3 linked regions of the Homo sapiens genome follow. The protein of the gene in region 3 interacts with the protein of the main gene of each other region in a pairwise test. Each region holds a gene or a part of one and is shown on either strand. Other genes may lie near its edges. The genes, in order: PELI2, LHX4 and ERO1A.

Region 1 (3,649 bases), 3.7 Mb from region 3:
ATAGGTGAATGGAGTTTGAATTGTGCCCTCCTTTTTTAGCTAGTTAATGATAACATATGGTAACATTTATAATATTACTCCAGGAGGGCCTTGAGTATTTAATTAAATTATATATGAAGTATTTTATTAAACTAAACTGGCTTTGTATAAAATTAAGTAAATTCAGTTAAGTTGATTGCATACCTAATTTTAGGTGAAATTATAAAAATAACCATAGCGTAGCTATGGTCAGGCTCTAGCAGGTGCATTACATTAATTGTCTTTCCAGTGTTGCTTAAAATAACCCGTGAAGTCAGTGTTGTTATTGTGTCCGTCTACAGATGAGGAAACCTGGGCTTTAAAAGGTTAAGTCACTTGCTAATAAGAAGTGGTGGATGGGGGGTTGAATTCACTACCCTGTGCTTAGATAGTTGCTATGTAGGGGCCATTAGTTGCCATGGTAGAGGCCAAATGTCTCTTGCTTCCACAATACTGTCAATTCCTGTGCCTGCTCATAGCTTTTCTTTTGTGGTAGAATTTAAAAAATAAAATCTGAATTCATGCCTACTAATGATTGCTAAATCAGGCCACCAGGTTCAAGTCCTGGTTTCACCACTTAGTTCTGTGGTATTGAATTGACGACGTAACCTCTCTGTGCCTGGCTTCCACATCTCCCAAACTGGAATAATATTAATACATGTCTAATAGGACTGTTGTGAGAACTAAATTCAGTAGCTGGAAAGGATTGGAACAGTGCTGGACACAGTAATGCCCCATGACTGGCTGGTTGTTATTACTAAGCAGGGGTTGCAAACTGGGGATGTGGCAGAAAACACCAAGTCCACGCTCTGCCCTCTAATTGCATGGTCTGGAGGAGGTCACAGACTAGGCAGCAGATCAGCAGATACTGTGTGATGAGCACAGTCATGAGAAGGTACCGAAGGTACTTTCCCTCCACAGGACACCTACCCCAGATGTGGGAGTCAAGGGTATGTGGAAAATAAAAAACCATACACCCCAGATTTATAATAAGACTTTGTTGTTTACCAAGAACTGCCCTGCAGGAGGAAAGGGGGGTTGTTCCACAGCCAGAGGCTAGGCCACCACCATACCTCAGCTTCTTACCACATCAGGGTGATCCTTTAGACACAGTTTTATCCTGCAATGAGGCCTCCTCTGAGAATTGCCTGTGGTCAGCAAGGTCAGGAGCCTCACGTCACCAGTTAGAGGAGAGGAGACCATGGGATGCTCGGTATGGTGGTGGGGCGGGGAAGGAGCATCAGCAAACTTCAGGCTGTCTGAAAGGAGTCACAGTGTATGTCCTGTACAGTATTAAGATTTATCATTTGTTGGGACCTTAACTTTTTCTAAAAACTAATACTTGGGAAGGGCTGATTTCTTCATGACAAGGAAAATGTCCAGGGCAAAGTGACATCCAGGTGAGACCTGGATGACAAGTAGGAGTTTGCCAACCAGGGCTCAGCTGGAGCAGGGTGTACTGGAGTGGAGTATTCTAGGCAGAGGTTGCTCTTGCACCTGCCTGTGGGCAGTCCGAGGTAGTGCGCTCATGGACTCCAGCTCCTTGCAGCTCATCGCAGGACAGTCCTGGTTTCCAGTTAGGAAGGGAAGAGCTACAGCAGGAGAAGTCGAGTGACTGCATTGGGAGTGACCTTTTAAGTGTGTTAAGAAGCTTGGGCTGTACCCCAAGGGCAGCAGAAAGCCGCCAAAGTCCTTTGAACCAAAGATTGACAAAATTTCTGGTGCTTCCCATACCTCTCTCTTTCCCTTACATGGTTCTTTTCCTCCACCCCAGCTCCTGGCTCTGTCCTCAGTCCTCTCTGCCCTCCCTGGGACCCTGCCTGGGCAGTGGCATCCATTCCCACAGCTTCACCTAGGTGCGGATAACATCCCAGATATGTTTCTTCGAGCCTGATCTGTCTCCAACGCTGCATCACACGTGCCTTGTATGCATTACCACCACCGATACTCTGCACACCCTCACATTCAGCACACCCAAAACTGAACTGGCCTGGCTCTTGCTGTTGAACTTATTTAGTTCTCACAACAATCCTATAAGACATGTATTGGCATTATTCCAGCTTAATGGATGTGGAAGCCAGGCCCAGAGAGGTTAAGTCGTTGACTCAAGACCACAGAGCTACTAAGTGGTGAAATCAGGATTTACTCCCTCATCTGCCATTTCTCCTGTGTTTCTGTCTGTGGAAAGCACTGTTCTACCCAGACAACCAGGCACGTAAGAGGCTCTTGCTCAGATCAAGAGCTGAGTGCCATCGAGTCTAATTTCTTTCTCTCTAGTCCCTGTGCCTCTGTCTCTTGCCACTGAGACTGTCTTTGTTGAGGTGTACTCACCCTCTCTACCCAGAGAGAGCACCAGTTGCCTCCTTCACAGCTCATCTTTACCCCTCCAACCCACCCTCCAAAGTTCTAGAAGTGACCTTTTTGAAAGGTCAATCAGTTCTTTTATAGTTACCTAAACCCCCTACCAACTCCCTCTGGGCATGGATGCCAGCCTCCCTCTCCCGCCTGGGTCTCTCGTCCCCCCCCACCCAGTGCCCTGAACTGCGTCCATCCTTGTTCAGCCTGGCTGCACAGCCTCATCAAACTCCCTGTTGCTCCCTTGGTGCATATGCCATTTGGCCTCTCCTCCTTCTCCCTGCTGTGCCTTCCTGCTATCCTCCCTACTGAGGCCTGACATCTTTCTCAAATCTCTGTTAAAGAAAAACCTTTTAGAAACCATTTCTGACCGTCTGTCATCATCAGAGTAATAGTAGCAGGTATTTACAGAGTGTTGACTGCGTACCAGACAGTGTTCTCTAAGAACTCTTTGCATTTACTTATCTAACACAACCACCTTTTCTAAAGTTTAAACAAGGGGAAACTGAGGCACGAGGAGTTTAAGTAATCTGCACAGCGTCATACAGCTAATAAGTGGGAGAGCCAGGGTTCAAACCCAGAGTCCACACTCCTGGCTGCTATAAATTTGTGGCCTTGAACAGTGCTTTACTGGCCTTCATGCACTCTGAGCTCTGGGCATGTCTGCCTTCCACTACTGAAGAGCAAGTCTCAGCAGGATGGGGAAGAGGTTTTATTGGCCTTTGGTACCTCCAAGGCTTAGCATGCATCTGGCATGTGGAGGCAGCGGTCACGTTCTTGCTGACCACGCCTAGCTGCTGCTTGTCAGCTGTTAATCAGTCTTATAAGCACTTAGTGCATAGCACAGGCCTCCTTCTAAAAATGAAGGCTCATGTTGAACTGTTTAGCTTCAAACCTTAAAAATGAATGATGAAAGATAGATTCAAGGTGGAGGAAGCTAAGGGTCACCAGGAGTGCTTTGGACCCTCCAGTAATGACTGCAGGCCCCCCGCAAGATCTTCTGGATTGGCTGTCATCAAGATGAGGATGAGTCTCCACTGGATGGACTGGTAGGACATCTCTCATCCTATGGGATCAGTGAGTCATTGTGTTACTGACTTAAGGAGTTAAAAAGAAAATCTTAGGAGATTTGTGAAGTTCATTAAAATAACCACTACAGTAATTGAACATGTAAAGCTAGGTATACATACTGTGCTCAGGGCTTTGTACATACGGCATATATGTATCATATCCAGTGATCAGATGAGGAAGATGAGGCTCGGGGAGGATAGGTTAC
Region 2 (3,649 bases), on a different chromosome or scaffold from region 3:
GCTCAGAGTCCAAATGAGGCCTCTGATGAGAACCAGCTGCAGGCCGGGGAGGTCGTGCCATCTTAGTATCTCTGATGAACGGCACTAGACTTCCAAAGGTGTCTTGGTATCTCTGAGTCCATCTGCTGTGATGGTTCATCCCTGACAAGTTGCCCTAATCTCCCATGACATCACAATTGACTTCAAGGCAATAGCATGGAGTGAGTTTTAAGAAACCAGAGCAGATTAGTACATTGCAGGCAAAGAGCCTTGGGATGGGTTTGCAGAGGCCCCAGGTCTCTGGAGGAAGGAGGTCAAAGGCCTCTGTCCACCCTGAAAGGCCAGAGCTGTGGGGGTGGTGGGAGGGAAGGTCCTCAAAGAGACAGGAAGCCCTGCCCACTCCTGCCATGGACCAAAGCCAAACCCAGCTCCAGCTGGCTCACCTAAAGGGCCCTTATGAATCCCCTCTGCTTCCTCACCACCACAATCCCCTTATTTTATACTGTGTTCAATGAACAAAAAACCAGTTTCTCCATTATTGATGAGATCTGTATAATATGTGTGTGGGCCCAGAAAAGATCTAGAAGGAGATACATAAAATTGTTGTTAATTTTTTTTCTCATCAAGCCCAGAGCTGTCAACAAGAGCCGTTTTTGCACAGTAACACCCTGAGTTGATCAAAATTCTAGTCAAAGGCCAAGGAACTTGATGTTTTGTGCGTTCACACCTCTGAGGTTATCATGTTGGGTTTGGCCAAATCCCAAATTCAGAGCCAGGGCCTGACCCCACGACCATGTGGGTGCATCTGGGAGTGAGAAGCCAGAGGTAGGGCTGCAGGAATAAAAGTGTCCACCTTGGCTTTGCGAGGGGAGCATGGGGAATGTGTTGTTCTGGGCTCTACGCTGGAAAGTCCCCGGGCTGCCCAAGCGCATGGCATGTAGGGCGAGAGCCGCTGCCGCCAGGCCAAGCTAGGCCTTTCCAGGCGTGGCTGCTAAATGCGGGACCTGACTTCGGCCTCCACCATGCAGAGCTCCTGCTGCCACCGTGGGCAGTGGCCCTGCAGTGGTTGTGGTGAAGGGGGTGGGGGCAGCTATATTGAAGTGGGTGGAGGGAGCTATATTGCTGAGACGGAGCCTCCCTGAATCTGGCATGTGTCCTGCCTCTTCTTTTAGCACTCACTGGGCACTTGCAGAAACTCCAGGAGGCCCTGCCCTAGAGGAGCCCACAGTCTGCGAGGCGAACAGAACACAATTAACAGACAGATGTATGAAGTGTGCAGAGGCCAGTGCTGGGCTCTCACCGACGGCCTTTGAGGCAGGGGCTGCTGAGAGGTCCATGTGCACCCTGATGTGCAAAACTAAGCGGCAGCCCCACGTGTCCAATACAGACCAAGCTCCCAGCCACCCCTCAGCACCCCAGCCTCCACCCAGGGAAGGAGGCCACCACCATGGTAACAACCAGGTTCTTGGCTGCTTCTGAGCCTACCATGGAGACAGGCAGGCTCTCAGGAACCATGGCTGGATGAACACTTCCATGAAGCCGGCGAGTGCTAACGGCCGGGGAGGTGTTCAGCATTTACTCTCAGTGTGGAGATCTGGGACGCTTCTCAGAGGTGGCGGTGCATGAGTAGGGCTCTGAGGGATGGGCAGGTGGGACGCCATGAGAAGGGCACCTCAGGCAGAGGGCGTGGCCCAAACAAAGGCCTGGAGAGGGGACCATGCGGGGCCATGCTGCTTACCGTTCTGCTTGGCTGTCTCGTAGTCTTCCTTGCACACCAGCCGCCCGTCCTCCATGAGGTAGAATTCGTCCCCCGTGGCCAGCTGCCGGTTGCAGATGATGCAAGCAAAGCAGTGCAGGTGGTAGACAAAGTCCTGGGCCTTGCGGACCACCTGGGTTGGGGGGATACCCTGCTGGCAGGCCGTGCATTTTGTGCCGAAGCGCCTGTCAGGGCAGCAGGAAAGGATTAGGGCACACAGGGAGCAAGGGATCTGGCTTCCCCCAACTTCCTGGAGCAGCCTCCCTCCTACCCCACCACTCCGGGACTCCATGAGCCTCACCCCCCAGTCACCCAGAGCTTACCGTCTGGTCCTCTCTGCCTCCATCTAGCTTCATTGCTTTGTGCCTGGGACTCTTCAACCACCAAAGAAGGGACTGATGAGAACTAGAGTCTCCCTCAGGTACCTTTTCCAAAGCTGATGCCCCCGGATTCCAGCTGCCCGATTAACACCCATCAATTCACAGGGGGAGCAGGTGGACTTTCTAAGTCCCTCAAAGCAGGCTGTCTCCCCCTCCACCTCCCAGCTTCCTCACCCTTATGGTTGATCCCAGAGGACATCCTCACAGGGAACTGTGTGTGCCACAGGCTGTGTGTAGAAAGCACCCAGCAACACCTTTTCACACACTCCCAGGGAGGAGGCCCTGCCTGGCCAGGGGACAGCACGCTGCAGAGAAAATGCACTTTGTCAGCAGAGCAAGGCTGTCCTGACAGCTGTTCTCTCTCCTTTGCCTCCATTTCTCCCCTCACCTCCATTCTGCACACACAAAGCCCTCCAAGCCTACCTCCATCCCCTTCCTATGCACGCACACAGCCTGGGGCATGGTGGTTTGGGAAGGGCCCAGGAAGCTGCACTTTTCAGCCCCTACAGCATTCGGGACAAGGAGTCTGCAGATTACAGTTTGGAAAATGCTGCTTCAGACCTCTCCTTGGTCAGCACCTTTCCAGAACAACACCGAGGCAAAAGGAAGCTACCTGCTGCCACCAAGGCAGCTTCTACCAAGCAAGCCACCCCCTGCCAAGGCCGGGAAGGAAGGAGAAATTGACACTTAAAAGTATCGTCCAGTGGGGTTGTTTCCACTCCCTTTCCCCATTCTGGTCATAGAGATCAACAGAGGCACACCGATGGTCATAGGAGACGAGGGAAATTTGGGGGCCGACAGGGACAGTGAAGGAGGGTGCGTGGCTGCAGGTGAGCCTTCCCCGCTTCAGGAGGGAGGCGGGAGGCATTGGGAAAGCAAGGGCAGAGTTTAAAACAGCAATCAACCTAATTATTCATGACATTTCACACAGCAGAACTTTATCTTCTTCAGGATGAAAGACTTCGCCTAATGGATCTGGGGAAGGTTTGATTTTAATGGTCCTTTTAACTAATGCTTATAGGCAGCCTGATTTCCCCTGAAAGGACAGTACATATTTCATCCACATTAATACCAAATAAATTAATTATGGTCATGGCTATCATGATGAATACCAGATTAATGCAGAATGATAGGTCTGTTATGCAGTAATGATACCTGCTGAGGGGGTTATGGGGGCCCGGAATAGGCATGGCCAGCAGCAGCCTCAGACGCCCCCCACCAGGGACACAGCATCCCAGAGAAAAGTGGGGGTTCTCTAAGTCTGCATGGGTAATCCTGAAAGACCCAGAGTGTACTTCAGGGAACACTCTTCTGAGATGGGTATAAGAAGGGTGTTGGGGTGTGAGGGGCTGAGAGGTGGTGGCTTGGGAGGACCCCAGGCTTCTGAATTCCTGGAATGCCTCTTGGTTTTCAGAGAGATGGGGCCCATTTAGAGCAGGAGTTCTCTGCGTGAGGGTCAGCATAGGCCTGTAAACCACCTGCTAAGTTGTTCAAAATTGTGCCTCAGGAGGGGACCTGGGTTTTCATCAGATTC
Region 3 (4,293 bases):
GAGAACTACAAACCACTGCTCAATGAAATAAAAGAGGATCCAAACAAATGGAAGAACATTCCATGCTCATGGGTAGGAAGAATCAATATCATGAAAATGGCCATACTGCCCAAGGTAATTTATAGATTCAATGCCATCCCCATCAAGCTACCAATGTCTTTCTTCACAGAATTGGAAAAAACTACTTTAAAGTTCATATGGAACCAAAAAAGAGCCCGCATCGCCAAGTCAATCCTAAGCCAAAAGAACAAAGCTGGAGGCATCACGCTACCTGACTTCAAACTATACTACAAGGCTACAGTAACCAAAACAGCATGGTACTGGTACCAACATTTTTATTTATTCAAACATTAAGCTAAGAAAAATTGTTGTATGAAATAATTTATAACACTTCTCCCCTTCCCTTCAGAATCTTAAACAGGAATCCATTTATCTACCTTATAATCCTAGGAAGGTATTATTTGATTATTCAAGAAATTCCTCAATGATGCTGCCTTTTCCCATGAAAGAAGTTCCTTTTTTTCCCCGAATAGACCCCTTTCATGACCCACCAAAAACCACACCAAATCTTGAATACAATTTCAGCTTTATTGACCCCCTAAAGTCTACAAATCCTTGGGACTCTACTGACCCTTGCTGTAAAGTGAAGGGAGTGAAAGTATTTGGAATATAGGTAGGACCTCTAATATAATAAAGATGTCACTTTAAAATCAATTTATTCAACAAACATTTATTAAACATTCATATGCCAAAAACTATGCTATGGAGATGCAAAAAATAAAAAGGTTCCTTTTCCTGCCCTTAAGGAGCTCACATTCTAGTAAAGACTTTTGAAAAATAAAACAATACAGTACGATTTAAGTGACATACAATAGAGGTAGGTTGTAATTACAGTGGTGACACGAAAGTGGAAGTTAGATGACTCTCCTTGAGTGGAGCAAAGGAGGTTTCACAGAGGAAATGCTTATGTCAGGCCTGCAAGATGCATAGGAATTTTCCAAGTGGGGAAGGATGACTAGCATACTTGATGCAAAGAGTACAGCATTTACCAAGGCGGGAGGCCTGGCCAAATGTGGCTTCTGAAGAAGTGTAAGTCTGTTTCACCAGAACATTCGGTGGAGGAAACACATCAGAAGACCTTGTACACCAAACAGAGGAGTTTGGCTTTCTCCTGAAAGTTCCTGAAGTCACTGAAGGATATTAGGGAGTAACACTGTCAGAGTGCTTCTAGAAAGCCTGCTGTGGTAACATTGAGCAACAGAGAGGAGACCAGCTAGGTATAGGAGGCAGGTTAGTACTGTAGGTATTTATTAATAATAGCAATGAAGATGAAAGAGTGATGTATCAGAGAGGTGGAGATAAAATCAGTAAAACTTAGACACTAAATGATAGGGGAAGGTGGAGGAGAGGAATGAGCCTAGAAAACTTAGAATATAATGGTTCTAAAATTAACCAAAGTAAGGGACACAGGCATTAGAGTAGGTTTTGCAGAGAATGAATGTTTTAAGACACACACAGGTGTCTCTGGGACAACCAAGAAAAGTGCAACAGGCAGATGGATTGAGGAGTCTGGCTAAAGATAAGGATTTAGGAACTGCTGAATTAAAATTACCCAAGCGTGAGAAGTGGTGTTGTGATTAAGAGAGAAAAAAAAAATGGAGGTCTGAGGAATAACATTTAAGGAATAAATGAAGAGGCCAAAAGGTGGGGGGTGGTTCAGGAGTGAGCAAAATGTAAGAAGTCAAGGGAATAAATCTTTAAAGTAGGGGTTGTCAAAAATGTCAAATACAGAAAAAAAGTCAAGTACTAGCTTGTGAATTAAACTGTGGATTTAGAATTAAGATTTTAGACTTTACAGGAAGGGACTGTTAACCAGAGAGCCAAATGGCAGATTTTAGTTAAGGAGCCAGTAGAAGGTGACAAAGTAGAGGTAAGAATATTCCTTCAAAAAGATTGGCAGCTAAAAAAAAAAGAGGCCGGGCGTGGTGGCTCACGCCTGTAATCCCAGCACTTTGGGAGGTCGAGGTGGGTGGATCACGAGGTCAGGAGATCAAGACCATCCTGGCTAACACGGTGAAACACTGCCTCTACTAAAAATACAAAAAAAAAAAAAAAAAAATTAGCCGGGCGTGGTGGCGGGCGCCTGTAGTCCCAGCTACTCAGGGGGCTGAGGCAGAAGAATGGCGTGAACCTGGAAGGCAGAGCTTGCAGTGAGCTAAGATCACGCCACTGCACTCCAACCTGGGCGACACAGCAAGACTCCGTCTCCAAAAAATAAAAATAAAAAAAGGAAGGGAAGCATAAGATGAGAGAGAGGGACACACAAAAAATGGCCATTTGAACCCACACTGTATTTATATTTTATATAGAGTGATCACTTCATAGTCTTTTGAGTCTCCAAGAGGATTGACTTAATTAATGGTTTAATGTCTTTCCTTTCCTGCCTTAGAGAAAAAGGAAGTGACAGAGAAAAATAGGACAAATTATTAAACTTACTTCTGTGATTATTCATTTAAAATATACTGAATACATATGCATACATTCATCCAACAAATATTTATTGGATACCAAGTATGTGCTTGGCACTGTACCAGGCCTTAGGGACACAGAAGAAGAAGTATACAGCAGTGTAAACTGACATTTCTTAACCACTATATAAATAAACCCCACTTTACTACTAATGTGACATTTCAACATGTTATACCTGATAAGACATATGTAAAGAGGGCACGATTTTGAGGTATATAGCTTCTTTTTCTCTACAATTACCATGTGATATAAATTCCTAAACCCCTTCAAATAGCTTTATAAATGAAGAGCTTCCACTAATGAAAACCTCCCAAAATTACAGTTCAGTTTTAGGGAGACAAAGGAAATGAACTTCGGGTATAAAAAACAAAAATGAAACTGGGTATGGTGGCAGACACCTGTATTCCCAGCTACTTGGGAGGCTGAGGTGGGAAGATCACTTCAGCCCAGTCGTTCAAGTTCCAGCTTGGGCAACACAGCAAAACCTTGTCTCTAAAAAAAATTTTAATAAAATAAATAGCCTACCCTATTACTATACACATCAAGCATAAAACGGGCAACAAAACTCAAAAAGAACTTTAGATTGGAACTTGAAAGTATTATTTATTCTAAGGCTTACAGTATTATAGTTCCAGAATTGTGGGAGTTTTTTTTTCTGAGAAAATCATTTTTAGTAATTATTCAGTATTACACACTGAAGTATTTAGGGTTTAAGGGGCATGATGCCTATAACTGACTTTCAAATGATTGAGGAAAAATTTGTGTGTGTGTGTGTGTGTACAGAGAAAGCATGAAAGATAAAGCACGTATGAACAATTAGTGAATCTGGGTAAGAGAGCTCTTTGTACTATTTTTGAAACTTTTCTGTAAATTGGAAATTATATAAAAATAAAAAGTGTTCCCCAAATTTTATTTAGTATTAGTGAAAGTATTATGAGAATAAATATATAATCTATTCAACTTTTCACAATGTTTAGAAATCTCCTGTGCCTTTGAGTTGTTATTGTACGTTTCTACACACAAAAACAACCCAATCAAAATAGCAATATACTTCTAAAAGTGATTTGTTTCATACCAATGTATTTTAGGATTGCCAGATAAAATACAAGACTCCCAGTTAAATTTGAATTTCAAACAAATAATTTTTTAGTATAAGTATTTTCCAAATATTCCATGTAAAATATTAAAAAACTAATTGTTTATCTGAAATTCAAATCTAACTGGGCAATCTTTATTTTTATTTGCTAAATCCAGCAACCCTAAATGTACTGAAAAATTCTACGTTGGTAATTATGGGTCATTTATGAGGCCTCCTTAGCATTTTCCTATTAAATGCTTGTCACATTTACCATAGTTTTATTTATATTACATATTATTACATAAAACGCTAGTTTGAGAGACTTAGAACATTCACTTTTATCATATATGAATTTGATAATCCTCCTTTTATTCAATATTAAACTTTAAAATTTGTACCACATTATTAAAGTATTACTTTTACTCACAGTAGTATTATACATAGACTTAACACAATTTTTAAAAATGTGTTTACTTAAAACAATATAATTCTCCTTTACAAAAGCAACTTTATATAAAATGTTTGGCTTAAGACTGTCATTGCTATTATGCCTTTGAATGAAATTCCACTCTTTCGCCTCCATTGTCCAGAAACAGGCACATATCAGCTTGTTTTCTTTAATGAATATTCTGTAACAAGTTCCTGAAGTTTTCTAATTCTTTCACACTTGTAGAAATTCTGTAACC

What was found.
Region 1: the proteins of ERO1A (region 3) and PELI2 interact in a two-hybrid assay, tested with the Homo sapiens proteins (one large-scale study listed by BioGRID and IntAct).
Region 2: the proteins of ERO1A (region 3) and LHX4 interact in binary tests that used the Homo sapiens proteins (3 or more experiments, as listed by UniProt).

The regions. Positions count from the first base shown.
Region 1 is NC_000014.9:56,292,810-56,296,458, forward strand, and holds part of PELI2 (E3 ubiquitin-protein ligase pellino homolog 2), read left to right. Parts: exon of another isoform or gene 1-546; intron 547-3,649. UniProt on the Homo sapiens protein: E3 ubiquitin ligase catalyzing the covalent attachment of ubiquitin moieties onto substrate proteins. Involved in the TLR and IL-1 signaling pathways via interaction with the complex containing IRAK kinases and TRAF6.
Region 2 is NC_000001.11:180,264,663-180,268,311, reverse strand, and holds part of LHX4 (LIM/homeobox protein Lhx4), read right to left. Parts: intron 2,110-3,649; exon of another isoform or gene 2,082-2,109; coding exon of another isoform or gene 2,059-2,081; intron 1,921-2,058; coding exon 1,718-1,920; intron 1-1,717. UniProt on the Homo sapiens protein: May play a critical role in the development of respiratory control mechanisms and in the normal growth and maturation of the lung. Binds preferentially to methylated DNA.
Region 3 is NC_000014.9:52,639,346-52,643,638, forward strand, and holds the end of ERO1A (ERO1-like protein alpha isoform 2 precursor), read right to left. Parts: intron 4,286-4,293; coding exon 4,225-4,285; 3' UTR 570-4,224; downstream 1-569. UniProt on the Homo sapiens protein: Oxidoreductase involved in disulfide bond formation in the endoplasmic reticulum. Efficiently reoxidizes P4HB/PDI, the enzyme catalyzing protein disulfide formation, in order to allow P4HB to sustain additional rounds of disulfide formation.